Linked DNA regions of Homo sapiens: all the other regions are linked to region 1. The links come from fine-mapping of genetic effects on gene expression. A gene starts in region 1. Each other region holds a variant in brackets. All regions are shown on one strand. Distances are from middle to middle. Region 1 holds the start of RNF157 (ring finger protein 157). Region 2 overlaps RNF157 (ring finger protein 157). Region 3 overlaps RNF157 (ring finger protein 157).

Region 1 (5,657 bases):
TCTTTCCGAAACAACTGTTCCACCGGCAGTGCAGGTCTAGCCGCTTTCCAGCGAGCCAGATAGTGGTCTCAACTTAACACTCAAACTACAAGGTATGTCATCTGGAGAAAGCTGACTCTGCCACTTGCTTTGTTCCACTGTTAGTACTCAGGATAAGGAGACTTCTCAAAATCAACCCAGGTTGATTCCTCTATAGGGACTTCAATTATGACACGAAATAGCCTTCATTCCATAATCATGGAATGATTGTTTTAAGTCTTGTTTTTTGAGTACAAGTTCAAAACCCAATTCCTTGAGAGGTGGAGGCAGACAGTATAGTAGGAAGAACACTAACTGGCTGAGAGACCCTGGCCATACCAATTCATTTCTCTGGGTCTCCATTTTCTTATCAGTGAAATGAATGGGAGGCCAAGGCGGGAGGATTGCTTGAGACCACGAGTTCAAGACCAGCCTGGGCAACATAGTGAGAGAGTGTCTCTACAAAAAACTTGCCTGGGCGTGGTAGCTCACACCCGTAATCCCAGCACTTTGGGAGGCCGAGGCAGGCGGATCACCTGAGAGGTCAGGAGTTCAAGACTTGCCTGGCCAATATGGTGAAACCCCATCTCCACTAAAAATACAAACAATTAGCCGGGTGTGGTGGCAAACACCTGTAATCCCAGCTACTTGGGAGACTGAGGCGGGAGAATTGCTTGAACCCTAGAGGCAGAGGTTGCAGTAAGCCAATATTGCACCACTTCATTCCAGCCTGGGCGTGACAGAGAGAGACGATGACTCAAAAAAAAAAAAAAAAAATTAAACATTAGCTAGGCATGGTGGTCATGGCCAAACTCTGTCAACGGTTCCTTTCAGGACTAATACTGTAATCCCATAAAGAGCCAGGTCAATTCAAAGATCAGAAGAAAGGCGATGCCTCCGTCTAGAGCATATATGCAAGCTCACATAAGGTTTCAAATACACAAAGGTTTGCTGACAGAGACAGGATGTTCTGATTCTATTTTCTATGTTTTAGCTTCAACAGAAATAATGTGGTCCACTTGCTATAAAGACTTCTCTCATGTATAACTTCTGATTTAACATGAATTACAGTTTTACAGTTAAACTTTTAAAACTGGTAGAGAGGAGAGGATTATTTATTGAGTGTGCTAATTAACAAAAGTTTTGGTTTGGTCTATTGTCTTTTTATTATCATCACCCAAGATTCATACTTGTACAAATATGCTTTGGGGAACAGCCTTCCAGAGGTTTACCTATGTTAAGTCCCACATATGAAAGAGCGGTGAATACTTTCCTGAGGCAGCAAACACTATTGAAAATTCCAAGCTCAGCAAAGTATGCTCCATATTTTGATCAATAAAAGCCATGTGGTTTAAGAAAAACAGAGCCCACAAATACTGCTGCATATTTTTGTCTATTTTAAAAAGTTTTCCTCATGCCGCCCTAAGAATATTTTTGTCTATTAAAAAACAAAATCTATGCCTTGGTTAGCGTTGATTTTATGTAGTCATAATCAGTCAGAGCTTTATTAAAATACTAACGACCCACAGCTTTATCTTAGACCTTTCTAAAACAATTCTTCACCATATTCATCTTTGCAAGGATTCATTCTTTGGTACAAAAGCAGTGAGAAACACAGCTCTGGCAGACACTCTGCAGGGATGCGGGCAGGTTCATCGTCTGGCCCCTGCTTTCACCTGGCAGACACTGGACACACTGCTGAGAAACCAGCTCATCTCAGTATGTCTCTATTCTACCAAAAAGAGACGAGGCTCTGCTCCAATTCTGACACCTCATTCCGAAATCACCAAAATCTCCATCGGGTCCTAAGCAGACAGAATGTCGCAGCCATTCATCCTCAGAAGTCTTGAGAATAAAATTAAAAGTAATTAATTAAAATAAAACTACTTGCAATTAAAAGTAAACACCGGCTAGGTCATGCAATTCATACTGGCCGGTGCTCACATAACTGAACTACCTTGTGATTCTCTGCTTTGCTGTCAAAATCCTCCTCCACCTCCAATGCTGATACCACAATCCAGAGGCTAGAGACATTTAAGTGAAGGGATGATTCTAATAACAAACATACTTCTATACGTTTCCAATACCTCTGCCCTGTCCCAGAGCTGGTCCCACTCCAAAACCCAGGCTTGCCACTACGCTAGCAAAGGGGCAATCCGAGTAACTCTGATACTCAGATTCCCAAACATTTCTGTTACTTTCCACCACCACCACCCCCCCCACCCCCCGGCTTCTGACAGCCTCTGCAAAAGCACCAGCACTGCAAATGCCTGTTTGGCTTCCATCCTTCAGCAGGCAATGGAAGCTTTTCCAGGAGAAACCTAATTCTAACCTTTCCAGAGGCCAGGAGACGGCAGCGCAGGGATAGCACCTGGCGCAAGTGCCTGTTTGGATGCCGAGGTCGCCTCCCTCGCGGCCCTCGGACCCCGCGAGGCAGGTAGGCTTTGGGCCGGGCCGGCCGGGTCCGTGCGGGGCGCCGACCTCGCCTACGACGCCGCAGCCCCGCTCCCCAGGAGCCTCGGTCCCTGCGGGCACGCGTCCCCGTCACGGGGCCGATTACAATGGAGGCCGCTCCCGTCCTCCCGTGGAGGGGCTCGGTGCCCTCGGTGACCCTGCTAGACCCGGCAGGACGCCCCTTGGGCTAATTCGCCCGGGGCGGGGGAGACCTCGGCCTTCTCGAAGACCTCCCGCGCTCGAAGACCGTTTCGGAGCGTCCGCAACCACTGAGTCCCCGAAGACCCGCGGGGCCCCCTCAGGCCGTCCCGACCCAGACCCCTGCCCCTGCCCCTCTCCCTCCTCGCGGCTGCGGCGCCCGCCCGCCCTCACCGGACTTGGGCGGGTAGCGGTACACGGAATTAGACGGGATGTCCACCTCCTCCACGCCCGCGTGCTGCCGGCTCGTCAGGGCCCCCATGGCCGCTGCGGCTGCAGCCCCGGCCCGGCCCCGGTGCCCGCGCCGCCCTCCGCGCTTCACCGCGGCCGCCCGCCCCGCGCCCGGTGCGGGGGCCGACTGCCCGCCGCGGCCGGCTCCGCTGCGGCGCTGCGGCTCTGGCGGCGGGGAGCCCCCGGCGCGCCGCGCACCATCCTCCGCCGGGCACCGCGGCGGCGCCTCTGCCAAGGGGGCTGCGGGTCTGGGCCGGGGGCGCCGCCGCCGCCTCAGGCCGCGTGATGTCAGCGGCCGCTCCGCGCGGGGACCGCGGCGGCCCCAGCCAATGGCGAGGCGGGGCGGGAGCGCCCGCGCCGGAGCAGCCAATGAGCGCGGGACTGCAGCAGGAGCCGGCGGCGCGTGCCTCGCGCGGGGAGCCGCGGCTGGACTCGGCGCGCGTGGACGCGGCCCAGGGCCTCGCGGCGGGGGCGTGGGCGTGGGCGGGGACTCGCGACGGGGACGGGGGCGCGGCCGGGTGCCCGCGGCGGGGCGGGGCGGGACCGGCCGGAGCTGGGACCCCAGGAGACGAGCGCTGCACCCGGCCGGGACGCGTCGCCCCTCCGCGCCTGTTTATCCCGGCTCGGATTACCGCGCAGGGAGCCGCCCCCTCCCGCGGTCCGCGAGGACTGGCCGGGAGCTCGCTCGCCATTGTCCTGGGCGTCCCAAAGCGGGCGGTCCCCGCTCCGCTGCTCCCGCGCCTGGAGGAAGCCTTCCCAACCCCGCCCCTCAGCGTCGGCCGGCGGAGGTCTTCGGAAATCTCATGCAGGGGGGTAGGGAGAGGGGTCCCACGGTGCATTCGCATGTCTCCTGCCCCGTGTTAATGCTGGTGACCGGCTAGGAAGATGCCGCCTCCCTCTCACGTGCGTCTATTCAAAGCGCTCCCAACTCTATACATGCTGTTTAAGGCTCCTTGTAGCCCTAAAGTTAGGAGAACATCGACTGAGGATAAGATCAAGACATCCAGCCTCTGTCTGTATCGTGGAAACGGGACCCCGGAAACTTTGGAAAGGCCTGAGTGCCAAGAGAGTCAACGCAGGCGAAAGCGAACCGGGCCAGGCAGAACCGGGAGCTCCTGTTGATAAAAACACACACAACAGTGGGAAGCTTGGGCCGGCGGAAGACGTCATTCCATTGCTTAATTACAGACATTTGTGTTTTAAACCTTCTATTTTCTTTGTGGGTCTGGTGTTTTTTTTCCTGAGAGAGTGGACTGATCAGCAAACATTTCAACTGCTAGAACATGACTTTCACAACTTTTCAACAGTGTTCGAAGTACAGTTTGGGGTGTCTGGTTCCCTTGATTAGGTTTGTAAAGCTATTTTACGGAGTCTAGGTCTTTCCTGGTTATATTTTGTTTTTGTTTTTCTGTGTTTTGAGACGGAGTCTCCCTCTGTCGCCCAGGCTGGAGTGCAGTGGCGTGATCTCAGCTCACTGCAACCTCCGCCTCCTGGGTTCAAGGGATTCTCCTGCCTCAGCCTCCCGAGTAGCTGAGACTACGGGCATGTGCCACCACACCCGGCTAATTTTTCTACTTTTAGTAGAGATGGGGTTTCACCATGCTGGCCAGACTGGTCTCCAATTCCTGACCTCCGCCCCCCAAAGCGCTGGGATTACAGGCGTGAGCCACCGCGCCCGGCACATTTCGTATTTTTCATTGCCGTCTTTTCAGCAGCAGCCAACAGACCTGATGCTAAGTGCCTTGGTTTCCTCCAGGGTCCTCAGGATGGTGGGAACACATCCCTGTCATTTATATTGGCTGCTGCTAACGAAGGCTTGGGTTACAGGGCAAGTCCCTGCCCCGGCAGCTTCTCCCAAGCACCAGAGCTCTCTGGCAGAGTCCCTGGTCCTAACTACTCCAGGGCTTTCAGTCATCCCTGTGGGAGGGAACTGGTGTCCTCCTCCATACTCCTTTCAGCACACACAGGCCCTACCTTGTAACTGCTGGGTAAAGGTAAAATGCAAATAAGAATCTAGAACCACCTCAAAACACAAGGCCTTCGACACATCACAGAGTAAAATGTTGCCTTATGCTCCTCGGCTCTGTTCAGAAGCCTTGGTTCTTCCTGCCCTCGGCATTTTGTAAACGGGACATCCCTTCCCTTTGTGGGTTTATCCATGTCTGAGAGTTTCTTCTGCTTAGCCAGGGCCAGGCAGGGATGTGGCTTAGTCAAGCAGCCCAGTCCTGTTGCTTATGGGGTGTCTCTTCTGGTCCCACCTTGGCCTGACCCTGGGAAGCCAGCTTCTCCATCTTGAATAATACTCCCCAAGCCTAGAAGTTGGTTCCTCCTCCCACGAAGGAGTCATGAGTCCAATGCTTAGAATAGTAAAGAAAAACAAGGCATAGCACAATAAAATTAGTGGATATTTATGGAACACTCTATGTGCCAGGCTGTTTTAAACACTTCACACGTATTAAAGCATTCAACCCTCCCAACAACCCTATCAAATACATGCTATTTACACCCCGATTTTACAGTCGAAGAGAATGAGGCACAGAAAGAGCACTAGACTTTGAGTTGGACAAATCAAACCCCTAAGCAGCTATGTAACTTTGACTTAAGCCCTTAGAAACGGTCTCCGTTTCCTCCTCTGAAAATAGCCCAGTCTCCAATGGTTATTGCAAAGATGCAATAAGTGAATCAAGACTCTTTTGTTTTGTTTTGTTTTTGAGACAGAGCCTCACTCTGCTGCCTAGGTTGGAGTGCAATGGTGT
Region 2 (5,775 bases), 47 kb before region 1:
GGCCATTCTCTCTTTTAAAAATAGTTTACACTGGGCACAGTGTCCAGGGAAATCGCTTGAGTCCAGGGAAGTCAAAGCTGCAGTGAGCCATGATCATGCCACTGCACTCCAGCCTGGGTGACAGAGTGAGACCCCATCTCAAAAAAAAAAAAAAAGAATTAAAAAAATAGTTTACGGCCGGGCGTGATGGCTCACGCCTGTAATCCCAGCACTTTGGGAGGCCGAGACGGGTGGATCACGAGGTCAGGAGATCGAGACCACGATGAAACCCCGTCTCTACTAAAAACACAAAAAATTAGCCGGGCATGGTGGCAGGCGCCCTGTAGTCCCAGCTACTCCAGAGGCTGAGACAGAAGAATGGCACGAACCCGGGAGGCGGAGCTTGCAGTGAGCCGAGATCGTGCCACTGCACTCCAGCCTGGGCGACAGGGCGAGACTCTGTCTCAAAAAAAAAAAAAAGTTTACACGGCTGAATGCAGTGGCTCACACCTGTAGTCCCGGCACTTTGGGAGGCCAGGAGTTCAAGACCAGCCTGGGCAACATAGTGGGACTGTTTCTACAAAAAGAAAAAAAAAAAAGTTACGATATGGATTAGCAGAGGACATAAACCTCTTGTGTTACCAGCATTTAAGTTTTTAATAAGTAGAAAATATGGCTAAGGACTACATTCTATTCTATAATTATACCAACATTTACCCTAAAGTTCAGTGCTGCCTTCTATAGATAAAGTGGGCTGGGTGTGGTGGCTTATGCCTATAATCCCAGTACTTTGGGAAGCTGAGGCAGGAGGATCGCTGGAGCCCAGGAGTTCAAGATCGGTTAGGGCAACATAGTGAGACACCGTCTCTACAAAAAAATAAAAAATTAGGGCTGGGCGCGGTGGCTCACACCTGTAATCCCAACACTTTGGGAGGCTGAGGCGGGAGGATCATGAGGTCAGGAGTTTAAGACCAGCCTGGCCAAAACCCTGTCTCTACTAAAAATACAAAAATTAGCTGGGCGTGGTGGCAGGCACCTGTAATCCCAGTTACTCAGGAGGCTGAGGCAGAGAATTGCTTGAACCCGGAGGTGGAGGTTGCAGTGAGCTGAGATCACGCCACTGCACTCCAGCCTGGGCGACAGAGCAAGACTCCGCCTCAAAAAAAAAAAAAAAAAAAAAACATTAGCCAGGTGTAGTGGTATGTGCCTGTAGTCCCAGCTCCTAGGAAGGCTGACGTGGGAGGACTGCTTGAGCCTGGGAGGTTGAAACTACAATGAGCTATAATTGCACCACTGCACTTCAGCCTGGGTGACAGAGGCAGACCCTGTCTAAAAAAATATTAAAATGTAAAGATAAAGTATATGTCTGATTAATTTCTGTAATAATCAGGGCTACTATTTTATTTGATTGGCCGGGAAAGACCATCTTAGAGAATGAAGTGTGCTGCTTAGGGACAAAATTTACGTGTAATCAACTGTTAAGCTATTTGACTCGTAAGTCTTTGACAATACAATACAGACTTTTATATAACAGTTTCAGTAACAGTTAAGGCCACTATGCATCTCTTTAAATGCTGAAAAAGTTAACCAGATTTTTCTTTGAAATGCAAAACCAGTAAGTATAGTTTCCCGTCAGATGGGGTGCACAATGACAACAGGAAACAGAGGTGAGAGTGTGCACACTTGGTTTCAATATGTTTCAAAGAAATTTCGAGGAAATTCCTACAACACAGATGCTTTAGTTCCACTACTGAATACCACAGCAGTTCTTTGTACTCTGGTTTGTTAAGAAACATGGCATCAAACAACGAAGCAAAAGTTCAAGCACTTAGTGGCACTTTTCGAGTCAGCAACATTTACATTATAAAGTTCCTTTCTCCAAGCTTTTACATGACTATTTTTATACTTCATTTTTCACTCCCTGCTCTGTATTATAGCTATGTATGTCCAAGTCTGATCTTCTCCATGAAATTATAAACTTGAGGGCAAAATCCATGTAGGAATCCTCTTCGTGTTACCCCTAGTGATTAGACCAGCACATACAGAAGGCAGAAATAGATGTCTGTAGAATGAATACACGAACAACAAGATCTTCGGAAGAGTACAGCATATGCCCATGGTGACTCTTTAGATTTTGAATATTTGCCCCGCAGACTAAATGGCAGACTGGTACAATTAATGCTCACAAAATAACTGAAAAACACAGACCACCATGTGTTTTTAAATTAAGGGTTTGTGGAGTAATACTGAGTAAGCTTGACTAGCAGCTGAAACCCTCTGGTTCTGCCAGTGAGTTGTATGAAAGACTGGAAAATGAAGATGAAATGATTTAATAAAACAAGTATGATATCAACAGCCAGAAGACACAGGTTCTTGTTTCAGCTCTCCCACTTTCTTTCCTTTTTTTTTTTTTTTTTTGAGACAGCATCCGCTCTCTTGCACAGGGTGACTGCGATGGCCATCACTGCAGTCTCAACCTCTCAGGCTCAAGTGATTCTCCCACTTCAGCCACGTGAGTAACAGCCGCGCGCCACCACACCTAGCTAATTTTTGACTTTTTGTAGAGACGGGACCTCGCTGTTTCCCAGGCTGGTCTCAAACTCCAGAGCTCAAGTGATCCTCCCGCCTCGGCCTCCCAACATGCTGGGATTACAGGCGTGGGCCAGAGCACTCAGCCTTCTCTCACTTCATACACAAGACTTTGGGCAAATAACTTAACATCTCTGAGCATCAATGTCCTTATCTGTAAAATGAGATTTATAGCTTCTGTCTATCTCATAGGGTCATTAAGATCAAATAAAAATGTTTTGAAAACCATACAGTGCTATAAAAATATATGTTATCATTAGTGATCCTTAGTGATTAGCATTAGTGATAACATCTTCATTAAAGAACTTGTAATGCTATTTTGAATGCTTGGAAAAAATAATGCACAAATGAAATACAAGCAATTAGGTAAGTATCTCTTATCTACAAATCCCAAAGCACTTGAAGTAAATACAGTTAGGATATATCTCACTTGGTCGTGACCCAGAAGAATTATTGTAGATCTGCCCTATATTCTACTGGAATTTAACATCTTGGAAACAGCTACCCCCACCACCCCCCACCCACGGACACATACAAGTTTCTACCATAGTGACTGAAAGGCTCTCTGAGATTCTCGGTTTAGGATCACTAGGGAAATGGAAGACACTGTCTAAGGTAACGTGAGAGTTAAGCACGTTCTCCTTTTGTCTGTTGTGACCCTGACTGTCTAACAAACAAACGTGACTTCTGAAGCCTGATCCGAAACAATCAGGAGCTGAGCGAGAAAACAAAACAGAGGTCTGAGGCACAGCTCCTGGGCAGGCTCTCCCGCATCCTGCAGTGAGGCTGCCGC[A/T]CCCATAGTTTCAGATCTGAGATTAGCGCCTGGCCGAGGGCTGCTGATGCAGGAGCAATGCTGCCCTGCTACCCCTCCCACCTCCACATCCACAGACAGCCCTGGGGGACACGGCTACCACTTCTCTGGGGTACACGTCCACAAACGGGACTCCCTGGACTACATGGGAACCAGGCCACAGAGAAGGCAATCACATTTCTATTAATCACCTCTTTCCAAGGCACATTCTGTTTTTTTGTTGGTTTGTTTATCAAGGTATAATTTATATACAGTAAAATTCAGCCTTTTTGGTGTACAGTTCTGTGAATTTTGACAAACACACACAACAGTGTAACCACCATTACAAACAAAATAAAGAACATTTCCATTACCCCCACATTCCCTTGTGCCCTCTCTAGTCAACTCCTCCATGCACCCCAGTCCCTGGCAACCATTGATCTATTTCTTATCTCTATCGTTTTGCTCTTTCCAGAATGACACAACACTCTTTACAATGCTTAAGTAAAATAGCCAAAGGCCTCATTCAGTTCGCATAGAACACCACGCACTCAGCCACCATAGGAGACTTTCAAATACATCAGAAATAGTGAAGCCAGTCTGATGGTGGGAAGGGCGGTAAATTCACTAGAGCCTGAGATGACTCTGCAGGCTCTGCTGAAAGACCCCCGAAAGCAGGACGCTTCTTAGTGGGCTGTGAAGTGGATAGTTTAAACCCAAAGACAAATAACTCATTTAAAATAGTCTCTATAGAAATGGCCTATGTCCTCTTCCATGATTGTATAATATACAGTACCAGACACGATTAGGTTTCCTTCCAGTTTAGATAACTCTGCTTTCTTCTGAATTGCTACTAAAACAATAGTAAAGAGATTTAAAAAGAGAGAGAGAAAAATATAAAACCACAAGAGCAGGCCGGGCACGGTGGCTCACACCTGTAATCCCAGCACTTTGGGAGGCCAAGGTGGGCAGATCACGAGGTCAGGAGATCGAGACCATCCTGGCTAACATGGTGAAACCCCGTCTCTACTAAAAATACAAAAAATTAGCCAGGCGTGGTGGCGGGCGCCTGTAGTCCCAGCTACTCAGGAGGCTGAGGCAGCAGAATGGCGTGAACCCGGGAGGTGGAGTTTACAGTGAGCCGAGATAGCACCACTGCACTCCAGCCTGGGTGACAGAGCGAGACTCTGTCTCAAAAAAACAAAACAAAACACAAGAGCAGAGGGAATGGGAGAGGATATTATAATAAAAACTTGGAAGCTGAAACACACACTGACAAGTGGAAAGCGATTCAGGAGAACAGAAAGGGCCGAAATCCCAAATGGCAGAAACATATTCATGTCACAGAACTCCAGACAGGCTTAGGAAATGGAGGTGTAGGTCCTCCTACAAGCGGGGTAGAGCAAGGCTGGAAACAGGAGACTGGGGTTGGTGTGAAAAGCATTTAGACCCCTAGATCTTTTTCCAGACACCACGTAACCAGGAGATCACCTGTCTCTCCAACTTCATTGGTTATCGGGAAAATGAAAATAAATTCTACAAACCTACCACAATGGCTAAGATTAAAAAGATGGAAAATACTAGGTGCTGGACATTCTAAACACTGCTAGTGGGAAAAAAAAATTGGTAGAATCACTTTGAAAAGCGGTTAGCGGTATCTACTACAGCATATTCTATGACTCAGCAATTCTCCTAGCTATAGCCTTAACAGGTATGCATACATATACACAACAAAATACATGTAATAATAGAACGTTCATAGCAGCACTATGTGTAATAGCCAAAATGCCCCAAAAAAGCTCAATGCCTGCAAACAATAGAGTGGATAAATTATGGTGTATTCACACAATGAAATACTATGCAGCAATGGAAATGAACCGTACACAGCACAGGAATAGTTTGTTCCTTCTCGTTGCTGTACGCCATTGAGGTAGGATGTAGGACTTGACTCAAGAAGTGAGACTCAACTCCAGAGGTGGGGCTCGCACATCAGACTAAATTGAGCACAAGCTAAAACAGGGACTGGGCAGAAGCAGCTTTCCATAAGATAGCCCATACCTCCCATACCTGTCAGTGTGTGCCATGTCAGTTTACTATTGCCACGGCAACACCTGGAAGTTACCACCCTCTTTCATGGCAATGACCCAATGACCCGGAAGGTACTATCCTTCTTGAAATTTCTTTATAATTTGTCCCTTAATTTGCACATAATTAAAAGTGGGTATAAATATGATTACAAACCTGCTCTGAGCCGCTACTCTCAACACACTGCCTTTGGGTAGCCCTGCTCTGCAGGAGCAGTCACAGAGCTGTAACACTGCCGCCTCAATAAAGCTGTTTTCTTCCACCACTGGCTCTTAAATTCTTTCCTGAGCAAAGCCAAGGACCCTCCTGGGCTAAGCTACCATGAGATAAAT
Region 3 (5,775 bases), 32 kb before region 1:
TCCCAGCTACTTGGGAGGCTGAAGCAGAAGAATTGCTTGAACCTGGGAAGCAGAGGTTGCAGTGAGCCAAGATCGTGCCACTGCACTCTAGCCTGGCGACGGAGCAAGACTCCATCTCTAAATAAATAAATAAATAAATAAATAAATAAATAAATAAAATAATAATGCCAGCTGTGCAGCTCTGATTGCAGGGAGCATGAGGAAGAAGAAACTGTGTCAATGCGGCCCAGCTACAGAACACACGAGAGGATACAGACTATTAGGAACTAGGTTAAAACTCAACTACTTTCCTTATAAAATGAGAGGAGCGGTTTGAACTCCTGCCTACAAAAGGCAGGCAGAGGTGGGGCACAGTGGCTCATAGCTATAATCCCAGCACTCTCAGAGGCCAAGACAGGAAGACTACTTGAGCAAAGGAGTTTGAGACCAGCCTGGGCTATGTAGTAAGACATTCTCTCTATAGAAATTTTTTTTAAAAAGCCAGGCATGGTGGGGCGTGCTTGTAGTCCCAGCTACTGGAGAATCTGAGGTGGGAGGATCACTTAAGCCTAGGAAGTCGAGGCTGCAGTGAGCTGTAGTTGTGCCACTGTACCTCAGCTTGGGCAACAGGGCAAGACCTTGTCTCAAAAGGAAAAAAAAGGCCAGGAAGGAGTCAAGGCATTACTTGACTAATTTCTAAGCCTCTAATAACTTAGAGTTGGGCAGTAATTATCCCAACAAAACAAGATCTAACTCAATAAAGGAGCAGAAAAGCAACACCAGCTCTTCTGCCACCTAGGAAGGGAAGGGATGGTCTTTATTTAACATTTTGTAACTGATTCACAGATACCTTAGTTCCTTTATATAAGGGACCAGAGCAGAAAGACCTTCAGAAGCCCAGTTTACTACTTAAGACAGTATTTAAAAACCAGTGAAGAGGCCGGCCAAGGTGGCTCATGCCACCTAGCACTTTGGGAGGCCGAGGTGGGTGGATTGCCTGAGGTCAGGAGTTCGAGACCAGCCTGGAACAACATAGTGAAACCCTGTCTCTACTAAAAATACAAAAAATTACCTGGGCATGGTGGTTCGCTCTTGTTGCCCAGGCTGGACTGCAATGGCGTGATCTTGGGATCTCGGCTCACTGCAATCGGCTCACTCCAGCCTGGGCAACAAGAGTGAACCTTTGTCTCAAAAAACAAACAAAGAAAACAGTGAAGAACCCTACCTAGAATGACAAGTAGCTGTAGAAATAACCAACTGGAAAGGTAGCAAGTATAGCTAACATTGCTGCATGCTGCTTTTTGTCCAGCAATTACAAGGAATCTTCCAAGCATTACATTATTCTAAAGTCAGAACTACCTCCATGCTACAAGCAGGTAATCTGAGCACCTGAGTGATACGTTTGCCAAGGTTACAAAGAGTTTAATGGTAAGATATAAATAAAACTTGAAATCTAGATTCCAACTTTCTTCCACCATCTTTCTGTATATACACACACTCTAGTTTCTTTAAATCTGACCCTTAAGACTTGATAATAAATTTGGCTTTGGGCCGGGCTTGGTGGCTCACACCTGCAATCCCAACACTTTGGAAGGCTGAGGCAGGAGGACTGCTTGAAGCTAGGAGATTGAGATCAGCCTGGGCAATAAAGCAAGAAAGACCCTGTCTCTACAAAAAAAATTTTAAAAATTAGCCCAGTGTAGTAGCATGCACCTTTATTCCCAGCTACTCAGGAGACTGAGGCAGGCAGATCATTTAAGCCCAAGAGTTTGAGGCTGCAGTGAGCAATGATCACGCCACTGCACTCCAGCCTGGGTGACAGGGCAAGTCCCTATCTCTAGGGGAAAAAAAAAAATTGGCTTTGATGGATTATCCTAAGTGGTAGATCTGTGGTGCGAAGTACAGCTCAGTCAAATGACAAACTTTTTAGTCTGCTCATTCAGAAATGACAGGGAATTGCACAAGCCAGGAAGTCTATGGCATTTATAGCTTAATATAACAATTCATTTTAACATATTTCACTGCCCATATTCACTCTCTCTGCAAAGAGGAGTCGTTCTTGCCGCATGCTGCTGGATGGCTTTAAAAGGTTGTTCTCTTTCTTGCTCCCCTGTAACCTAACACTCATGTGCTGACACCCAAGATCTTTTGCTAGAGAGTGGAAGTCAGCTGTTTAGAACTCAAGCTACATGTCAATCTTCAATCTCTGAGCCTTCCCCTAAACAAGCATGTTGTGCAGTAATGGCAAAACCCAGAGGTCAGCTCAGCAGATGGAATTACACATGGAATACGAACTCTGAAGAGGCGCTCCAAGAGAACATATCACTGCCACTCGTCTACTTTTATTTATTTATTTATTGAGACAGGTTCTTGCTCTGTTGCCCAGGCTGCAGTGATCATAGCTCACTGAAGCCTTGGCATCCTGGGCTCAAGTGATCCTCCCACCTCAGTCTCCTGAGTAGCTGGGACTAGAGGCATGCACCACCACGCCTGGCTAATTTTTATCATTTTATATTTTGTAGAGATGAGGGTCTCGCTATGTTGCCCAGGCTGGTTTTCAATTTCTAGGCTCAAGAGATCTATAGGCCTCGGCCTCCTGAGCAGCTGGGACTACAGGCATGAGCCACTGTGCTGGCCTCATTCCACTTTCAGATACCAATATTTCAGAAATTGCACTTGAAGATCTACACA[A/G]TGGACTCACAAACAGGATGTGGGCAGAGTTTCTGAGTACACCTGGCCTAATTAGCAAAAATGGCAGCATGGTTCAGGCTCTGGAGCCAGACTGTTAGGTTCCAATCCTGATCCCTTACAGGCTGTGCAGTCTTTAAACTCTCTGTGCCACATGTTCTTCACCTGTTGAATGAGGACCTTTTTCATCATGATGTGAGGACAAAATGAGACAACACAGATGAAAAGCTTAGAACAATCAGCCCTGGCAAAAACTAGGTGTTCAAATGTTAGCCATCATTATTATTATCAAATAACCTGTGGGGAAAAGAAAAAGAGAAACATGTGGCATTTATTCTCTATACTACATTTTTATGCAGCTATATGAAGTTACTCTGATTTGCTTTCCTAATATAAAATTATGTCTTTTAAAAACATTTGCCAGCGCGGTGGCTCACACCTGTAATCCCAGCACTTTGGGAGGCCGAGATGGGCAGATCACCTGAGATCAGGAGTTCAAGACCAACCTGTCCAACATGGTGAAACCCCATCTCTACTAAAAAAACACAAAAATTAGCCAGGTGTGGTGGCAGGCACCTGTAATCCCAGCTAGTCAGGAGGCTGAGGCAGGAGAATCACTTGAGCCTAGGAGACTGTGGCTGCAGTAAGCCAAGATCGTGCCACTGCACTCCAGCTTGGGTGACAGAGTGAGACTCTGCCTCAAAAAAAAAAAAAAATTCATTTGCTATGTGTAACATTAAGCATACTTAATGATTACTACATAAAAGCAACAACAAAAACTCCAATGTTGATGTTCTTTTTTTTTTTAAGTGGCATTTATTGATTGATTGATTAAGATGGAGGTCTTGCTATATTGCTCAAACTGGACTCGAATTCTCCTGGGCTCAGGTGATCCTCCCATCTCAGCCTCAGCCTCCTGAGTAGCTGGGACCACAGGCACATGCCACTGTGCCCAGCTTGATCTTCTTTGGGAAAAAGCCTCAACTTTAAGGTTAAGGCTGCTACCTAGCATTTCAGAAAGAGCTCAGTCATTCATAGGTCGGCATAGGCAAACTTAGGAAAAGTCTGCCAGCCAGCATAAACTTCAAGTTGAACCTAAAGCAGCATTTACTTCAAGCTTGTCCAACCTGCGGCCCAGGGGTAGATGGCTTTTAATGTGGCCCAACAGAAACTCGTAAACTTTCTTAAAACATTGTAAGATTTTTTTGCGTTTTTTTTTTTCTTTTTTAGCTCATCAGCTATCGTTACTGCTAGTGTATTCCGTGTGTGGCCCAATGTGACAATTCTTCTTCTTCCAATGTGGCCCAGGGAACCCAAAAGATTGGACATCCCTGATTTACTTATTTTTATATCATCTTTATGGACTGAAAAGGCCAAAATTTTTTTAAAAATATATAAACTATCTTTACATCAGATGAAAGGAAAAAGACAGAAACAGATGCAAACATCAAGTCCATGTTATTAATAGAAGAAACGGCTACTTTCATTTTTGTTTTTGTTTTTTTGAGACGGAGTCTCACTCTGTCGCCCAGGCTGGAGTGCAGTGGAATGATCTTGGCTTACTGCAACCTCCGCCTCCTGGGTTCAAGCGATTCTCCTGCCTCAGCCTCCTGAGTAGCTGGGACTACAGGCTCACACCACCACGCCCAGCTAATTTTTGTATTTTTAGTAGAGATGGGGTTTCACCACATTGGTCAGGATGGTCTCGATCTCTTGACCTTGTGATCCGCCCGCCTCGGCCTCCCAGAGTGCTGGGATTACAGACATGAGTCACCGTGCCCAGCAGAAAGGGCTACTTTCAAAGCACAAGCTGACTCCCTGTGAGTGAGGCAACATTTTTATCTGGCTCTATCAGAAAAAAAGAAAGATCTGTCTACTCTAATTACCAAGGCAGTAGTAACAAAATCAAAGAGTAGACATCTGATAAGTATTACTTGACATAACTTAACTTGAAGCAGACAAGATTTGGTATTTTGAAAAGTGTACTACTGGACGAAAAATTAGCAGAGGGGTCACTCCAGATAGAAAGGAAGAGAACCCGCCGGGCGCAGTGGCTCATGCCTGTAATCCCAGCACTTTGGGAGGCCAAGGTGGGCGGATCACGAGGTCAGATCGAGACCATCCTGGCTAACACAGTGAAACCCCGTCTCTACTAAAAATACAAAAAATTAGCCGGGTGTAGTGGCGGGTGCCTGTAGTCCCAGCTACTCAGGAGGCTGAGGCAGGAGAATGGCGTGAACCCGGGAGGCAGAGCTTTCAGTGAGCCAAGATCGTGCCACTGTACTCCAGCCTGGGCGACAGAGCCAGACTCCGTCCAAAAAAAAAAAAAAAAGAAAGAAAGAAAGAAAGAGAACAATGAAAACCAAAAAAATAATTATTTTTATGTTAAAGGTCAAGATGGAAGACCATCATCAGATCAATCTTCCTAAAAAAGCAATTTCTCCAGGTCACTCACCTACCTACAAGTCTTAAATATTCCTCACGGTCTACAGGAGAGAGTAAAAAACCTATCAAGGTAACACAGCCGCCACCTACCTTTCTCTTTTTTTTGAAACAGAGTCTCATTCTATCCCCTAGGCTGGAGCGCACTGGGGCAACCTCAGCTCACTGCAACCTCCACTTCCCGGGTTCAAGCGATTCTCCTGCTTCAGTCTCTGGAGCAGCTGGGATTATAGGGGTGTGCCACCACCCCGGGCTAATTTTTGTGTTTTTAATAGAGATAGGGTTTCACCATGTTGGCCAGGCTGGTCTTGAGCTCCCAACCTCAGGTGATCTGTCCACCTCGGCCTCCCAAAGTGCTGGGATTACAGGTGTTGGCCACTGTGCCTGGCCCACCTTTCCAATCGGGCCAGACTGGTTTCCTTATTTGTTCCAGGGAAGAACAAACCATGCTCATTTCAGCTCTGTATCCACAGCGCCTATCACAGTACCTGACACGCAGTAGTTGCTCAGTAAATGTTTGCCAATTCAACAACTTGAATGCTCTTAGGCCTGTGCCGTGCTCTACTCCTGGAAAGGCCTCATCCAACCCACCATTCTTCAAAGGCCAGTTCAACTCCCTGCACCTCTTCCCAGTGTAACACTGAAGCAACCTGCCCTTGCCATTGT

The links. PIP is the estimated chance that this variant, and not a neighbour inherited with it, causes the effect.
Region 2: its variant is fine-mapped to the expression of RNF157 in whole blood (TOPMed, PIP above 0.99). The same link has a PIP of 0.9 or more in blood mononuclear cells.
Region 3: its variant is fine-mapped to the expression of RNF157 in whole blood (INTERVAL, PIP 0.98).

What each region holds. Positions count from the first base shown.
Region 1 is chr17:76,237,309-76,242,965 of GRCh38, forward strand. It overlaps RNF157 (ring finger protein 157), which reads right to left and starts at 3,185. Exons shown (of 19, transcript NM_052916.3): 1 at 2,845-3,185. The coding sequence starts at 2,932. LOC105371896 (a long non-coding RNA gene) reads right to left here. Exons shown (of 6, transcript XR_007065913.1): 6 at 3,554-5,657. RefSeq lists an enhancer at 2,153-2,825 and silencers at 3,130-3,269, 3,290-3,359.
Region 2 is chr17:76,190,463-76,196,237 of GRCh38, forward strand. All of the region lies in intron 2 of RNF157 (ring finger protein 157), which reads right to left. Among named protein-coding and RNA genes, the nearest start is that of RNF157, 47 kb to the right of the region's middle. RefSeq lists an enhancer at 310-809. The variant A/T (reference allele first, on the strand shown) is at 3,362.
Region 3 is chr17:76,205,606-76,211,380 of GRCh38, forward strand. The region is part of intron 2 of RNF157 (ring finger protein 157); the gene reads right to left. Among named protein-coding and RNA genes, the nearest start is that of RNF157, 32 kb to the right of the region's middle. The variant A/G (reference allele first, on the strand shown) is at 2,671.